Linked DNA regions of Homo sapiens: region 1 is linked to region 2. Evidence: fine-mapped expression QTL. A gene starts in region 2. The other region holds a variant in brackets. All regions are shown on one strand. Distances are from middle to middle.

Region 1 (8,335 bases), 260 kb after region 2:
CCTGTCCTGTGCAGCTTCAAGTCAAGGGTGGGAGGTGGACAGAGAACCTGTAGTTGAAATACCCAGTTTATGTGCTGAGTGCTGGGAAGGGGAAGCACAGGGTGATGGGGTAGCACACACAGAAGGGGCAGCTGACCCTGACCAAGAATCCTGGAGGATGGATAGGAGGGAGCCCAAGGGAAAGTGAGGTTAGGTGGAGTAGGCGAATGCATAGGAAGAGACATTGACATTTGAGAAGGCTGGAGGTGAAAAACAATGCATATTTTGCATTAAATATAAAGGAGGTTCATGTGGCTGGATTGCGAAAGGAACAATAATCTCTAGTTGTTAGGAGTCCAAGCTCTGGATCCAGTCGGCCTGGGTTAGAATCTTTGTTGGGCCGCTTATTACTGTGTGTCCTTGGTGAAGCTATTAATGCTTCTGCAACTCAGTTCTCTTATCTGAAAAATGGAGAGGATGAAAATAATAGTACCTACTTCATAGGTTGCGGCAAAAATGAAAATGAGCAAATATGCATGAAGTACTAGAACCATAGCTGGCATGCAGTAAGTAAGGGCTTTAGAAGCGTCACCTATGATTAGGTGAGGAGTAGGGGACAGGAGGCTTGGACAAGCAAGGAAGTTAGTTCCATACACCTGTAATGCCTGTGGGCCAGGCATTAGCAAACCAAGCAGAATCAGAAAGACCCAGCTGCTGACTGCAGGGAACTTGCAGTATTGACTTGTTAAAAACTTGGACCTTGGAATCAGAGAGACCTGCCTTCCAACCTGTCTCATCTGTGTAGTCATAGGCAGATTATTTGCTGTCTTTGAGCCTTCTTTTCATCGGTAAAATGGGCATAATGATAGTATATTCTTTATAGAGTTGGGGTGAGGATTGGTGAGACCATATGTGTGTGTGTGTGTGTGTGTGTGTGTAGTCTCTCTGTATATAAAAACACATATAATGTGAATATATATATGTGTATATATAAAATAGTGCTAGCAAAATAGTAGCTATTATGCCAATCAGGGTAGGAGATGACAGGGAAATAACCATAATACAGGGAGAATATTTTATAATAATCAGGATGGTGACGCCCTTAGACACGGTGGCTACAGGCTCTCAGTGGTTTCCCATAGCTCTAAAATAAAGATGTACTTAGCTCACTGGCTTCATCTATCTTCATTTTCTCTGCTCTCTCTACTTCATCTACCCCGCTTTGTACTACACTGCCTAGACGTTCCTGCTCCCCAGACCTACAGATTCCAGGTGAAACATCATTCACTAGCAGAAGCTTTTCTTGAACCCCAGATGGGGTCAAGTTTATGTCCCCCACTAGATACTCTCACAGTATCCTTTATTTTGATTAGTGTCTGTTGTCCATCTAGACTATAAGCTTCATAAAGTCAGGGGTCATATCTTTTTTACTTATTATTGTCTCTCCATCAATTATTATGGTCCCCATATTAAGAAACCAATAAATATTTACTAAATACGTAAACACAAATGCAGCCAAGATCGAACTTTTATAAAGGGAGAAGCTGGAACCTGCTCCACTTCCACTCAGAGAACACAATTTTCCAGGGCCCTCTGCAGATTCCAAGACCCCATTTCTTTGCCTGAACAGCAGTGTAACTGATATGTCACACTGTAATGAACCAGAGGGCTGATTAAGAGCTTATGTAAATGTTGGGACTTTTGGCAGCATTCATTTCCCTCTGATTTTGGCATGACTCAAAGCATGGGAATTTTTCAAAAGAGAGAGCTTTCAGAAAATACCCACACCCAACGGTGGAAACCTTAGAAGAACACAGTGCAGAGGAACGTTCCTCAGCGAGGGATTAAGGGACTCTCAGCAGGTTTTCAAAGGCATATGGAGACAAGATGTCAGTGTGAGCTTGTTTCTCTGACAGAATCTGAAACGCTTTTAACCAGCAAGTTACCAAGAGGCTTTTAAGTGAAGAGGCTAATGTTGTAGGTTTATAAATAAATGGATGTTTGTGGTGACTTCTTTGTGGTTCATGTGACAGGGAGAACATCAGGGAGGGGAGATTATGTCTTGTATTAACAGGTAAATTGCTTTTTCTGCCTCTTGGTTAAGTGAGCAGGAGGACAGAGTGCCCTGGGTAAGGAATTGGGAGACCCCCCTTTTCTTTTCAACTGATCCTGGCTTTCCCTGTGATAAGCAGTGTGACCATGGACAAGATATTAACCGTCCTCTGCCTCAGTTTCCTCATCTGCCCAATGAAATTTATAATGCCTTGTCAAATTTTTATAAAATTAACTTGTAATACTGGTAGCTAAAACTTACTGAGCACTTAATATATGTCAGCCCCATATGAACTCGGTCAATCTTCACAACCACCCGTGAGATAGGTTACTACTATTGCCCCTACTTTACAGAAGAGAAAACTGAGGCACAGACACTCTAAATACCTTGTCCAATGTCACAAAGCTGGTAAGTAGTGGCACTGGGATTTGAACCTAGGCTACCTGGCTCTGGAACCAGATTTAATGACTGTGCTCTATGCTACTGCCTTTCTAAGTAGAGAGGGCCTTCTTAAAGGCCTTAAGAAGAATAAAGCCCGCTGGCTGGTTGGCTGGGCAGGATCTCAACAGAAAGTCTGCAGAGGAAAGGAGAAGACAGAGTGTCTACCAAGGGGAGATGTTATGGGTAATCATCTCTAGAAGGGGAGTTTTACCTTTTTATGGCTAGTATGGGAGAATGAGAGTTCTTAGACCTTGGGCTTGGAGACAGATATGGGCTTGAATCCATGTTTGGTCACTTAATATGTAACTTTTGGGGTAAATTACTAATCTGATCTGAGTTTCACAGCTCACCTTAAAGACAGAGCTATCAAGGTTACAGGATGTTGTGTGGATTATGTGAGAACATGTCAGGCATATGGTGCTCAACGAGTTTCTCCCTTCCCCTTTTTAACATGGTCCCCCCAAAATGAATTTATCTGGTGTCAATCACACTTTGAAACTGGTTTGGGATATGTTTATTCTCTGGGCTGCATTTTACATTGATAGTGTTTTTTCGGGTCAGGGTAATTGATAGGTTTTTGGGGTTCACTCCCACACTCACATTTGCCTACCAATGGGCAATTTTCTTGTCCTTTGGTGTGAGGCACATAGCCATTTCAGAGGAGGTTTTAGCCTTGTTGAGGATAAGGTCTCAGCCCCATCCCAGTGATGAACTGGAAATGGACAGGAAACATAAGGACACTGGATTCCATACACTTTTCCTGGGTACCATTTCTGTGCTGGACCCAGGGGTGTTGGTTGTTCAACCAGGAAGCCAGCTGGCTAGTTGGCTGTGGTCTCAGCTGAGAGGAACTTGAAGACATGACGAGAACTTCCTATCAAGGAAGTGGGGAGCCAGGAGAGTCAGCAGACAAAC[C/T]CATGCCAGAGTCTATGAGGGCTGCTTGGACTCATACTCCAGAGAGTCCAGAGGCAAAGTCCAGTAAGGTCGGGAGAGATGGGGATTACACATAAAATCTTAAAAGCTGGATTGCATCTGGAAAAGGCCACAGTGCAAGTTCTGGATACGTCCAGGTAAATAGGTACAATCTGGATTTAAGGAAAAGAGCGTACATTGTGTGTGCGAGTGCCAGGTGATTTCAAATTAGGTGTCATATTAGGCATTGAAAGATAGCCAGATAAATCCTAGCATTCCCTGGCAACACCACAAGGGGGCAGACATTCAGGTGGGAGGGTTATGTTATAACAGGAAGAAACATTGATTTTGGTTCTTAGTCCCTTCTTAGCTCGTAATAATAGCAGTTGCATGTATTGAACACTTACTATGGGTCACAGACTGTGAGCATGCAATCTCCTTTAATCTCCGCAGCAAACGTATAATATTAAGACCTATTTTTCCATCTTTTTTTTTTCTTTCTTTGAGACAAGGTCTCACTCTGTTGAACAGGCTGAATGCAGTAGTGCGATCATAGCTCACTATAGCCTCGAACTCCTAGGCTCAAGTGATCCTCTTGCCTCAGCCTCCTCAGTATCTGGGACTACAGGAACATGCCAACACATCTGACTAACTTTTAGTTTTTTCAGTAGAGATGAGGTTTCACTACGTTACCTGTGCTGATCTGAAACTCCTGGGCTTAAGTGATCCCCTGCCTGGGCTTCCCAAAGTGTTGGGATTATAGGTTTGAGCCACTGTGGCCAGCCAGATTCTCTTTTATTGGACAGGAAACTATAAGCCTTGGTCCATATCCACAAGGTATTGATGTTGCCGTGACCACAGAATGATAGAATATCAGAAACATCCCTCTGATCAGTCCTGTCCTCATCTTCTCTACCAAGTCTAGGCCAAGTCTGGGGGCCTGAAGGCCAGTTTTGGGATTTGCTCCGTTGTAGAAGGCTGTAGAAGGTGGCCCATCTACTCACTCACTCGCTATATGTTAGTTGAGGTGCCCACTATGTGTCAGAGAATGTTCTTGACATAGGTGACGAGATAGACCCTGCTCTTACAGACCTTGCAGTCACAGGAGTGACCAAATTACCAGTGTGATAAACTCTTTTGTTAAGGAAGGTAGCAGGTGTTATAGGGACTCATAAACGGAGCACCACTTAAATAAATAAGAGGAGACTTCCTGAAAGAAGTAACAACTAAACTACATACACGGAGTCAAGCTCTGCATGAAAGGTGCCATCAAGGCTTAACATTCAAAGGGCATGGTCATATTCACTGTATACACTGGCATGGAGCAGAAATTTAAAACAAAAATGAAAAAGTATAATTAAAAACCTAGGCTTAAAATTAAAAAAAAAAATATATATATATATAAAAAACAGAACCCTTGTCTGCCATCTCTCTCACCCTCAGCACTGTGCAAACCCATCTGGGTACTGTTCAGTTCTTTGAATGCTGCTTGACACGGACAAACAAGAGGGCATTAAAAGGGGAGGTCACAGCTGGGCGCGGTGGCTCATGCCTGTAATCCCAGCACTTTGGGAGGCCAAGGCGTGTGGATCACATGAGGTCAGGAGTTCGAGACCAGCCTGACCAACATGGCAAAACCCTGTCTCTACTAAAAATACAAAAATTAGCCGGGCCTGGTGGTGGGTGCTTTTAATCCCAGCTACTTGGGAGGCTGAGGCAGGAGAATCACTTGAACCTGGGAGGTAGAGGTTGCAGTGAGCTGAGATCACGCCACTGCATTCCAGCCTGGTCGACAAGAGCAAAACTCAATCTCATTAAAAAAAAAAAAAAAAAGGAGTTCACCAAGAAGTGGAGAGATTTGAAGCATTATAATGCAAGAAATTGGTTGCATTTTGAAGGGTACACAGTGAGGTAGAGGCATAGCAAGGGGAAGCCTCACTTCTTGTCTGGGCTACAGTAGCCCTCCATCTTCCTCCTCTTTACACACACTCCAGATGAAATACCCTATATGATGACTCAGAGTCATTAATAACATGACCACTTGTGCAGCCCAAAGATTAGACAGCCAAAGCCAAGAGTCTGTTGTGTTGAAGTGGCTCTGGGTGGGAAGCATTCTCCCCAGAGACTGGGGCAGGGTATGACTTGCCAGGGGAGGGTTTGCAGAATGTTTAGACTGTGACTCATGAAGGTCTTAGATGAATAAATAGCTCTCTTTCTGCTGTGACTGTTGACAGGGCTGGTGACAGCTTACCTTTGCAGTTGCCAAGGAGAATCTCACTCTGATTTTTGACAAGTTCAATTTTCCTAACCAGCTGGGGTCTCCAGAATGGCCACCATGAATAAAGGCCTGGCCAAATATAAAGGGCAATGAAGCAATAGGTAATATTTGGAGGTATGAAATCTGAAGTGCAAACATCTCCTCCCAGCCAAGGAAGAGTCATCATTGGGAAGGGAAGATTAAAGGAAGAAAGTTTTCTGCTTTCTGGATTGGGAAAACAATATCTTGCATCTTTGTGTGGCTAGTTGGCCATTTTATTAATAGTCTTAGAGCTTCATAATCCTGGTGAGAAGAAAGATAGTCCTCTTTCTGGAAACATCTATATAATTTAAAATCTATTTGGCTATAAGTAATAAAACCCTGACGGATAGTGGCCCACACCATATCACTTTGATTATCTCACATAATAGGAAGTCTGGAGATAAGTAGTCTAAAGTGAGAACAGCAGTTCCACAGTATTATTGAGTTGACGGGCACTTTTTCATCTCTATATTTATGTAGGTCATTGATTCTTCTGCCTGTTTCTCATGGTTTCAAGATGGCTGCCGTGTCTCCAGATATTACAACAGTATTCAAAAGTAGACAGGTGACAAGGAGTGGGAGTGTGGAGTGGCAAAAGATCCTTTTCTTGGAATGACTATGTCATTTTATCAGTGAGGAAACAAAAGTATCCCAGAAGCCCTCCCAGCTGATTCACTCTTATACCTAAATGACCACAATATTATTGACCAGAACTGGGTCCCATGACTGCCCTTAGATGCAAGGGAGCCTGGAAAAGTGAGTGTCTGGCAAATGTTAATGAAATAGTCATGACTGACTTAGGTCAATCACGATTTAACCCCCACCAACCCAGGGCTGGCACTTTTCTGTCTTGAATAAAGCTAATGTTTTGTTGGTAAGGAAGAAGGTTGTTGGGGATGGGGCCTGTTTCTACCGCATGCCTTTGGAAAGCTAGTCCAACATTATAGTATGATAATACATCATTAGTACAAAATAAAAAACTAGAAATAGAGGTGTGAATTTGCAGGATTTTCAAGGCATGAAGGTCTTTGAGAGTGTGATGGACCCCAAAGACTGTCAGTATGTGCTAATAGAAGATTGCAGAGAAAAATAACAAGTCACTTAACACACCCATTGTCGTACTCACCCTTTAAGGCCCAAGCCAACTTTGCCTGCTTGTGAATCTTCCCATCCCTTGCAGGTAGAGCTAGCCCGTCCCTCCTCCTTGCTCCCATTGCACTTTTCACATACCTTGATTATACGAATCACCAGCTTGAATTCAGAATCAACAGGTATTTATTGTGTTCCTATTCTGTCCTGGCCCCATGCTTGGTATCTCTCTATGTCAGTTTAGAGTAGACCTTCCATGGCTTCCCCTTGTAATGAGGTAATGGACATTCAGGGATAGTAAACTCAAGTGAATTTTAAACTTAGCTCGTAAGGCCCTTTGTAGCCACTCTGGTTTACTTCTCTTATCTCAACTATCCTGACCACCATCTCTTTAAAACCTGTGTTTCATCCATTCTCTTGACTCATGGAAGCTATCCATTTCTTCTCTCCCTGCTATTCCTTCTACAAAAAAACAATATTCTTTTCTTCTATGCTTGGTCAGTTTTCACTTATCTTTCACACCTTATTTTAGATGTCATTTCCTGGAAATGAGCTAGGTAGGACTGAGCTAGGTAGCCTTTGTCTGTGATCTGTCTTGCCATCTTAGTCTGCTTGCATTGCTATCAAAGAATAACCAAGGCTGGGTAATTTATAAAGAAAAGAGGTTTATTTGGCTTATGGTTCTGCAGGCTGTACAAGAAGCATGGTACCAGCATCTGCTTCTGGTGAGAGCTTCAGGGAGCTTCCAATCATGGAGGAAAGGGAAGGGAAGATGGCTGTGCAGAGATCACATGGTGAGAAAGGAAGCAAGAGAGAGAGGTGAGAGGTGCCAGGGTCTTTTTTAGAAACCAGCTCTTGTGGGAATGAATAAAGCAAGATCTCATTTATTACCATGAGGAGTGGACCAAGCCATTGAGAGGGATCTGTTCCCATGACCCAAACACTTCCCATTAGACCCCACCTCCAACACTGGGGATCACATTTCAGCATGAGGTTTGGAGAGGTCAAACAAACCACAGAACCTGCCCTGCATATCATAATTCTAGTCACTGTAATGTAAGTCCCTGAGTTTCCCAGTGGTGGGACTGAGGTGCATTCATCCCTTCATTGCCAATGCATGGTACAGTGTCTGATCCATCCTGGGGGATATTTGTTGAATGGCTGAGTGACAAAGCTTTTCATCAAATATTTAGTGCCAGATTATGCGTCAGAGCCCAAAGTTGTAGCCCTGGCTCAGAGGAGGAGGTTCCTGAGCACTCAGTGGGGCTGCAGTTGAGTAAACACTGGGCTTGTTGCCTTGTCATGGTGTGACCACAGAAAAAGCACATTCTATCTCTAGGCATAAGCATTATTCTTCTGGGGGAGAAAAAAGAGGAATTAGTTTTCAACTTTTTTTAAAAAAACAGGAAAAGTCCCCTTTGTTTTCTTTCCCAAATAAACGATCACACTGAAAAGCAATCTCAAAAACATAGTGGAGATGATTTGCCTAAAACAAGGGTATACTAAGTTGCTATTTCTGTCATAACAAATTACCACAAATTAAGTCGTTCAAAAGAACACAC
Region 2 (8,308 bases):
ATAATGATGAATTTTATGTGTCAACTTGACTGGGCAAAGGATAGCCAGATAGCTGGTAAAACATTACATCTTGGATGTGTCTGTGAGGGTATTTCTGGAAGAGATTCAGTAGACTGAGTAGGAAGATGCCCTTGTGCATCCCATTGAGGGCCTGAATAGAACAAAAAGACAATGGAAGGCCGGGTGCAGTGGGTCACATCTGTAATCCCAGCATTTTGGGAGGCTGAGGTGGGTGGATCACTTGAGGTCAGGAGTTCAAGACCAGCCTGGCCAACACAGTGAAACCCCTTGTCTACTAAAAATACAAAAATTAGCTGGGTGTGGTGGTGCATGCCTGTAGTCCCAGCTACTTGAGAGGCTGAGGCAGGAGAATCGCTTGAACCCAGGAGGTGGAGGCTGCAGTGAGCTGAGATCACACCACTACACTCCATCCTGGGCCGCAGAGAGAGACTCCATCTCAAAAACAAAACAAAACAAAACACCATTTAAAAAAACAAACAAACAAAAAACGGTGGAAGAGTGAAAAGATAAATTTGCTTTCTGCTTGAGCTGGGACATCTGTCTTCTCTTCCCCTCAGACTTCACTGCTCCTGGTTCTCAGGCCTTCAGACTTCGACCAAAACATCATTGACTCCCCTGGGTCTCAGGCCTTCAAGTTTGGACTAAAACAAATCCACTAGCTTTCCTGGGCCTTCAGCATGTAGATGGAAGATTGTCACTTAGTCTCCATAATTGTATAAGTCAGTGCCTCACAATAAATCTCTTTCTGTATTTCTATATATATCCTATTGGTTCTGTTCTCTGGAGAACCCTAACACACTGGGCATTTCATTAAGTGGAATATTATATAGTAATAAAAATGAAGTTACAAGCCTCATAGTTCGTGAATGTCGATTACACTCACAGGTTGAGTGAAAAAGCAGGTTGCAGAACAGTACGCAATGATGTTGATTTATATATGAAAAACAATGCTGTTTATTGTTTAGGGATACATGCATACGAAAAGCATGAAAATATGCATGGGAATTAACTACAAAGTTTAGGAAACTGCTTACTTCTCAGGGAGAGGAAGAAAAGGAATATGATTGGGGAGTGGTACAAAGGGAGCTTCAACTACATTCGTAATATTTCTTAAGCTGATTGCTGTTAACTCTTTTTCTAAGTCGAAATAGTTCATAAAAAGTGAAATTCTACATGTTTGAGGACTTTTATCCAGTCAATCATTACAGCACTCAGAGCCCCCACTGTATCTGAGCTGTTGTTGTAACAGGGCACCTTGAACCGTTCACCCAACAGGTAGGGCCTCTGCATATACTTGTTCAGGTTCTATGTTTACAAGAGTTCTTGGGTAAAGGGGTGGTAGAACCGAAGTCCAGCTTATCCATCAGTCAACAAGTCCTGTGTGCTCTGCACAAAGACACCAAGGCAAGTATCACTACGATAGGGTACTTTCTTCATGGCCCATAAGCTCCATGCCACATATGCAGAGGGGTTGCAGCCCAGTTCTATTTTTTATCTAGCCTGTGGATGCCGCAAATTTACTTACACACAACCAATGAAAACTTTAAGAGGAACCGATCTGTAGACAGAGACCCTATTATTTTTTGCTTGCCGTCAATTTTTATTTGGTTTATCTCAGTATCTTTCCAGTCCTTATGATTTATTTAAGAGCTGATCATTTTTCTCTAGTTATCTGAGATATTACCTTAATCACTGGTTTTTTGTTTTTTGTCTTTATACTTTCTTGGGACATCTTATCCAAGAGATGGAGACTAATTGACCAATGTATCTCTAATGCAAAGCATACAAAATGTACCAAATAAGAAATACAAACACTTCAATATATCTTATCTTTTCTGTTCCCTACCCAAGTCTTTTGTTCCTGATCTTTTATCTTCTTGGCTAAGCTGCAAATTTGAATCTTCCTTTCTTACATTTGTCATCTAATAGACAATAGGAATTTATTTTTTAGTAAAATCTGCATCTCCCCTTTTTTCAAAATATAAATCTCTCCTTTCACCTAAGTTTTCAGCCATAAGATTTTATTATTTGAAGACAAAGAATAAAGTTCTCCAAGTGTGGTTCATGAATCACCTGTGTCACTTTCACTTGCTGTGCAACAAAATGCTGGTTTCTGGGCCCCACTTAGGCCTACTAAATCATTCTGCATTTTTAATCAAGATTTGCATATAAGCCGGACTCCGTGGCTCATGACTGTAATCCCAGCACTTTGGGAGGCCAAGGCAGGTGGATCACTTGAGGTGAGGAGTTTGAGGCCAGCCTGGCCAACATGAGAAACCCCATCTCTACTAAAAAAAAAAAAAAAAAAAAAAAAAAAAAAGTAGCTAAACATGGTGGTGGGCACCTGTAATACCAGCTACTGGGGAGGCTGAGGCAGGAGAATCACTTGAACCCGGGAGGTGGAGGTTGCAGTGAGCCAAGATCACGCCACTGGACACAGTGAGTGAGAGTCCGTTTCAAAAAAAAAAAAAAAAAAGAAGAGATCTTAAAGAAACGATTACAGAAACTAACTTTACAATTTCTTCCTTATTTGTTCATGACAGTTGCTAGAAAATAATGGAAATGATTTAGACGATGAAAGCCTATTTAGGGAAGGCTCTAAGAGTACCAGATTAGGAGCCAGGAGCCCAGGAGCTGTTCCGTGATGATGTTGGGCAGAACACACTCTCTCTCGAGCCTCAGATTTCTTATCTATAAAACCAGAGTTTTCTGGGGGTCTTTAAGTTGTCTTTCAGCCCTGCAGTGAGAGGAGATATGTCATTCCTAAAACTTGAAATGAAGGCATATGTTTATTTATTAACTCTCTAGCTTCTAGACAGATTTACTGTATGTGACTTATGTGCCCAACCTGACATTATCTTTTAGATAAACTCCCAAATACAAAGATGATAAAATTTTTTCATTTTAAACTTATAGGTCTGCATCAACCTGTTTCCATTGTCCTAAGTTTTATTTACATACGATGGCTAGTCAACTTTATATGATAATTATCTTTAAATCCTGCTTTTTTTTTTTTTTTTTTTTTTTTTTTTTGAGACAGAGTTTTGCTCTTGTTGCCCAGGCTGGAATGCAATGGCGCGATCTCCAGCTCACCGCAACCTCCGCCTCCCGGGCTCAAGCAATTCGCCTGCCTCAGCCTCCCGAGTAGCTGGGATTACAGGCATCTGCCACCACACCCGGCTAATTTTGTATTTTTAGTAGAGACGGGGTTTCTTCATGTTGGTCAGGGTGGTCTAGAACTCCCAACCTCAGGTGATCCGCCCGCCGCAGCCTCCCAAAGTGTTGGGATTACAGGCGTGAGCCACCGCGCCCGGCCGAATCCTGCTTGTTTTAATGTATTCATTAAAAATGTCTCCATTATAGAGTAAAACGACTCAACGCCATGGCAGAGAGCAAGAAACGAAGTACCCTTAAAGCCGTAGTTGGTACAGGTAATGATTCCGTGGGGTCTATTAGGCCACAGGGACTCAAAATCCAGAAGAGGAGGGAATGCTGATAATTACCTAACACCAACGTTGCTGCTGGCTTCTCAGCCGTAGTCACCTCCCACTCAGATGTTTTGGAAATTGTCCAGTGTTCAGAAACATCACTTTCTCTGACCTTTTACAAAATTCCTGTGTTTCAGGATTTTAAAGTGCGTGAGAAAGGAGTCTAATTTGCAGTCACCAAAAACACCAAATACAGAGAGAGGACTGGGGAGAATGAATTGCTAAGACTTAGCTACCAAATGTGTATCAAGATAGGTGTAAAGATCCCAGGTGAAGTGAGGCACTGGAGAGGGTACACTTTTAACTTAGTGTATAGCTAAAACCCAAAGATGTGTGTCAGATCGAGGGAAACTTTTTTCCTCCTCTTCAAAATCTTTTTTCCGTTTGCAGAGCTCCAGACGTCCTCGCCCTTTGGAACAGCGGAGAGTCATTTAAAACTTAACTGAACGCTGGAGGGAAGTTCTACTTACCAGGTCATCCAATTTAGGAGATCCAATTTCTGCGGAGGGAACAAAAAGACGGGTGGGGGAGGGAAAAACTAGACCCCTTGTCCTACTATCCTTCTACCTTCAATCCACAACCTGCCAGACAAATCCAGCCAAGTCAAGATTTTGCCTTGAACCACCACCACCACCACCACCACCACCGCCGCCACCACCACCACCACCACCGCCGCCACCACCACAACCACCACCACCTTGTCACTCACGCCCGAGAAACACGCCCCTCTGGTCCTCCTCTTGGCCAATGGCGGCTCTCCTCTCTGCATAGTAATGAGCTCGAGACCTCCCCGGGCCAATGGCGCTCCGGGAGAAGGGATACTTTTGCATGTACCTAAGTGATTTGCATAAGCCAGCGGCCGGGGGTTTGGGAACCAGAGCGTGCAACCCTAGAAGGGAAAAGGACGGGAAGAGATTGAGCCGCGGCTGGGAGACAGCGAGCCAGAGTCTGGGTGTTTGTGCGAGAGCCACGGCGGGGGCTGGGGCGAGTGGCCGGCATGGCTGAAGGCTGCGCTCTGCAACCTTGAAGAGCCGCTGCATTGAGAGGCCAGGGACAGGGAGACCGGTGCGATGGCAGAGCGCGGCCCCCGCCGCTGCGCCGGGCCGGCCCGGCTGGCGTGAGCCGCCGGAGGAGCGGGGCTGCCTCTGCGCGTCCATGGAGCAGCGGGAAGGGCGAAACTCCGGAGCGCCGCGTCCCTGCGCCGCTGCGGCGGACTGCTGAAGGGGCCGAGCCCGCGCGGACCGCCGAGGAAGAGACCCCCGCTCCAGCCCGCAGGCCGGCTGCCCGGGGGCGGCGGGGGACATCGGAGGGCAGCGGAGCGAGCAGCGCCGCGGGAGAGGCCGGCGCGGGAGGCGGCCGCAGCAATGCCGGGCCCGCTAGGGCTGCTCTGCTTCCTCGCCCTGGGGCTGCTCGGCTCGGCCGGGCCCAGCGGCGCGGCGCCGCCTCTCTGCGCGGCGCCCTGCAGCTGCGACGGCGACCGTCGGGTGGACTGCTCCGGGAAGGGGCTGACGGCCGTGCCCGAGGGGCTCAGCGCCTTCACCCAAGCGCTGTGAGTGCGGGCGGCGGGGACGCGAGGGGGGGGGAGGAAACGGGGCCCAGCGGGGGGCGCCGCGGGGCGGAGCCAGGGGTCAGTCCCACCCCACCCCGCCCCGCCGCCGCCCGGGCCTGGGGAGGGGGTCCGCCGGTCACCTGCGTGCGGGCTGCCTGGCACCCACTCCTGTGCCACGGGCTTTCCGCACTTTGCTAGTCCGGGTTCGAGCCAGCAGTAGCTTTCGTTCCCAGACTTTTTGGGCACAAGCACCCTCCCACCCCACCGCGCACACCCCCAACTCACAAGTGCATCTGGGGCCAAGAAGGAGGAAGTAATCTAAAAACGCTTGCCCCTGGCAGCCTGTCCACGCGACCTTCCCTTCTCATGAGGGCCCTCGCTCAGCGGGCAGGAGTTCCGCTACTGGCGGGGCTGAGGGCGCCGAGAACTTGGCCTCAGTCTGCATACCGAGGCATGTCTCGTGGGGAAGCACCTGGAGCCTCCTGGGTTCCAGCATGTGGGGAGAAGAAACACCTGTACCTCAGTCAGGGCGAATCTCCTTCCAATTTGGCCCCATCCAGGTAGTGCGTCCCGGCACCTACCTCGGCCCAGTTCCACTCGGGACTACCCCACTAACGCCCAGGCTTCTGCAGCACGCAGGGGAGTCCGAGAAAACAAGGGAGAATTACAGGGTTCTGTTGGTGGACATGCTCTTACCCAACAAGGCCTTTTAAAGAAGGAATGCTGACCTGAGGTGCAGGATGTTGGAAGAGAAGCAAGTTCCGGAGCATATGCTCAGCCCAGGCTGCAAGGTAGCAGCAGGTTTCTAATGCACCTTCACGCAGCCAGCAGATCTTTTCTTTTGAGCTGCCTGAGATCGAGAGACACACTGAAATGTTTCAGACTTACAAAATCGCCCTGCCAAAACGGACTTGAGAGCTTTAGACGTTCCCTTGAGAAAAGAAGAGGAATCTGAACTAGGTTGTGGAGGTGGTGGCAAAGGCCACGGATAGAGGAGGAACAGGGTAGGGTTTTTGTGTTCTTATTGCTTCTTGCGTTGCGTGGCCAGCTGAATGCTTAAATCAGGAGCAGTCGAAGAAACGTGTGAGAGAGGAAGGGATCCTGAGGGGCCCTAGGGTAGAGGGAATTTCCTTTTACCTGTAGTGGAAGGGACCTCTTAGAAATAGACAGTTTTAAAGGACCCTGTGAAGAAATCTTTATGCAGGCAGGAGCATTGCTGTATTTCCAGGTGGGTGGTGGCAAAGGTGTTCCGCTTGCCCTCTCAGGATGGACTTTTAGTGAGCATCGAGGCCTGTTGTCTTGGAACCTGTTTCATTCTTCTACCTTCAGCCTTCCCCTCCCCATTTGTTATTTTTCCTGTCTCAGGTTAGTTTTAGTTATGTATTTGAGGTTTTTTTTTTTTTTCAGTATAGTGAAGTTTAACTTGTCATTAAAAAAAAAAGTTAACTTTGCAGTGAAGAGCATTTTGTTCATAAAGTTACATTAAGTGGGAAAGTTTGAGCAGGAATTGATTGAATCAAGAGAAAGAAGACCTGTGGAGAGGAAATGGGACTAATTTTTCCCCAAGTTCTCTAGAAACGTTTAGGGAATTCGTGCAGAAAGAAATGCAGAAAGAAAGGTCCCTTTACCTGAACCTCTTGCAAGGCTCTGCATAGAATAGAAAAGCACAATTTTACTATTTTGACCAGTAGTAAAGACCTTGTTTAGCAGATTCCTCACATTTTAGTGAGTAGACTTGTCCTATAAGGAAACGGGCTGTTTTACATTAGTATCTAAAACCACAGAGAAATAATCACACTTTTATGAGAGCATACTCCTCTCTCCAAAGCATCTTCTGGTAGAACTCACTGAAGGTGGTGAAATGCTGTATCTTCAACTTTGGGCCTTAGAATAAGTTAGTGTTCATGGCTTAGGAAACAGAAAAATAATTGGTACCAGTCTCAATTAGAGTGCCTAAACTAGCATTATCTTAGCACTTTCTGAGCTTTGGTGGTGTGCAAATGTGTTTTATTTTCTTAGATTTGTGACCTGTAGGTAGAGTGATCGTACATTCTGGTGACTCCTTATTTCTCCTTAGTACTCATTTCACCCTCAAAAATATATATAACCACCCTCTCTAAAAGGGTTTTCAAGGACAGCATATTTGCATTTTACTCATGGGGAAACTAGCTCATTCAGTGATTCTCAAAAGCAATGTATGAAGCAAGGCCAGTGCTGCAGGTTTGCACACTCCAGTCGATCATATATGGGACATGTTGCGATCACCTAGGGTCTTTTTCCAAGTACTTCCAGTCTGCTCTCCCATCGCAGCTTTACTGAGATACAGTTACACATCAGGAGACTAGTTCCGTGGTCTCTAAGCGTTTGTTCACCTATTCTTAATTGCTGGAGCATGTGAACCAAAAACCTCTGTAGTTATACAGAAAATTACAATCATGAAAGTAGAAGTTAAAAAGATGAAACTATAATTACTAATCAGAGTTCTTCATTTTCTTCTCATTGCTCAATGGCTTGTCCTGGAGTAGTGCTTTCACCTTCCCTGGGGACAGGGGTGGGGGGTGCATTTCACTTTAAAGATCCTGGGACTGACAGGGCAGTGATTTTATTTTACTCAACTTGGGATCCCCAGAGCCCGGTACATAGGAGGCACTTAAAAATGCTGGAGTGAATAAATAAGGATGCAAGGCCACACCGAGGAGCAGAACCGTGGCATGGAATTCAGACACCATTCCCACAGGGGATTTTCAGATTCATTCTCAGCACTTAGCCTTTTGTCCAGATTTGAGAAGGTCCCAGAGAGAGAATACCTGCTTCTTCTCCTTGAGGCTGGTTGAAACTTGTTCAGTCTAACAGTGTCTATTTCCTGGTGAAAGCCGCTTTACCGGAGTCTGGGGACAGCGTCAGATGTGATCCTCAGTACTGTGAATGGGATTCCTGTATTCACACCATTTGCTGCACCTGTAGCAACTATTTATGTTTTTGAACAACAGTATTCAATCTTGTGTCACAATGCACTGGCCTGTCACAATTCACCCCGAGGAGTGTTCAAGGCAGTAATCTTACTAATATTAAAATTCCGAAGTTTAATCAGAAGGATTCAAGGTTATTACTGTATTTGTGCTAATAACTCAATCACCTACATTCCAAGATTGGGAGAAGAGATGAAGTCATGGGGAGGGGAATGTGTATGTGAGTCCTCTGGTTTGTGTGTTATTGCTACGGTGTTTGAGAAACGTAGACCTCGAGCACA

Which allele goes with the higher level. Positions count from the first base shown, and alleles are read on the strand shown. Sizes are in standard deviations (SD) of each study's normalised expression.
As copies of C replace T in region 1, the expression in fibroblasts of the gene that starts at base 4,386 in region 2 goes down (small effect, 0.24 SD a copy in GTEx).

What was found. PIP is the estimated chance that this variant, and not a neighbour inherited with it, causes the effect.
Region 1: its variant is the best candidate, but not a certain one, in a credible set for the expression of LGR4 in fibroblasts (GTEx, PIP 0.54).

What each region holds. Positions count from the first base shown.
Region 1 is chr11:27,206,922-27,215,256 of GRCh38, reverse strand. The region is part of intron 2 of BBOX1-AS1 (BBOX1 antisense RNA 1); the gene reads left to right. Among named protein-coding and RNA genes, the nearest start is that of BBOX1-AS1, 7.7 kb to the left of the region's middle. The variant C/T (reference allele first, on the strand shown) is at 3,389.
Region 2 is chr11:27,468,868-27,477,175 of GRCh38, reverse strand. LGR4 (leucine rich repeat containing G protein-coupled receptor 4) reads left to right here and starts at 4,386. Exons shown (of 18, transcript NM_018490.5): 1 at 4,386-5,058. The coding sequence starts at 4,874. LGR4-AS1 (LGR4 antisense RNA 1) reads right to left here and starts at 5,445. Exons shown (of 4, transcript NR_131170.1): 1 at 5,344-5,445; 2 at 4,219-4,398; 3 at 3,980-4,008. RefSeq lists silencers at 4,613-4,662, 4,793-4,962, 5,213-5,272.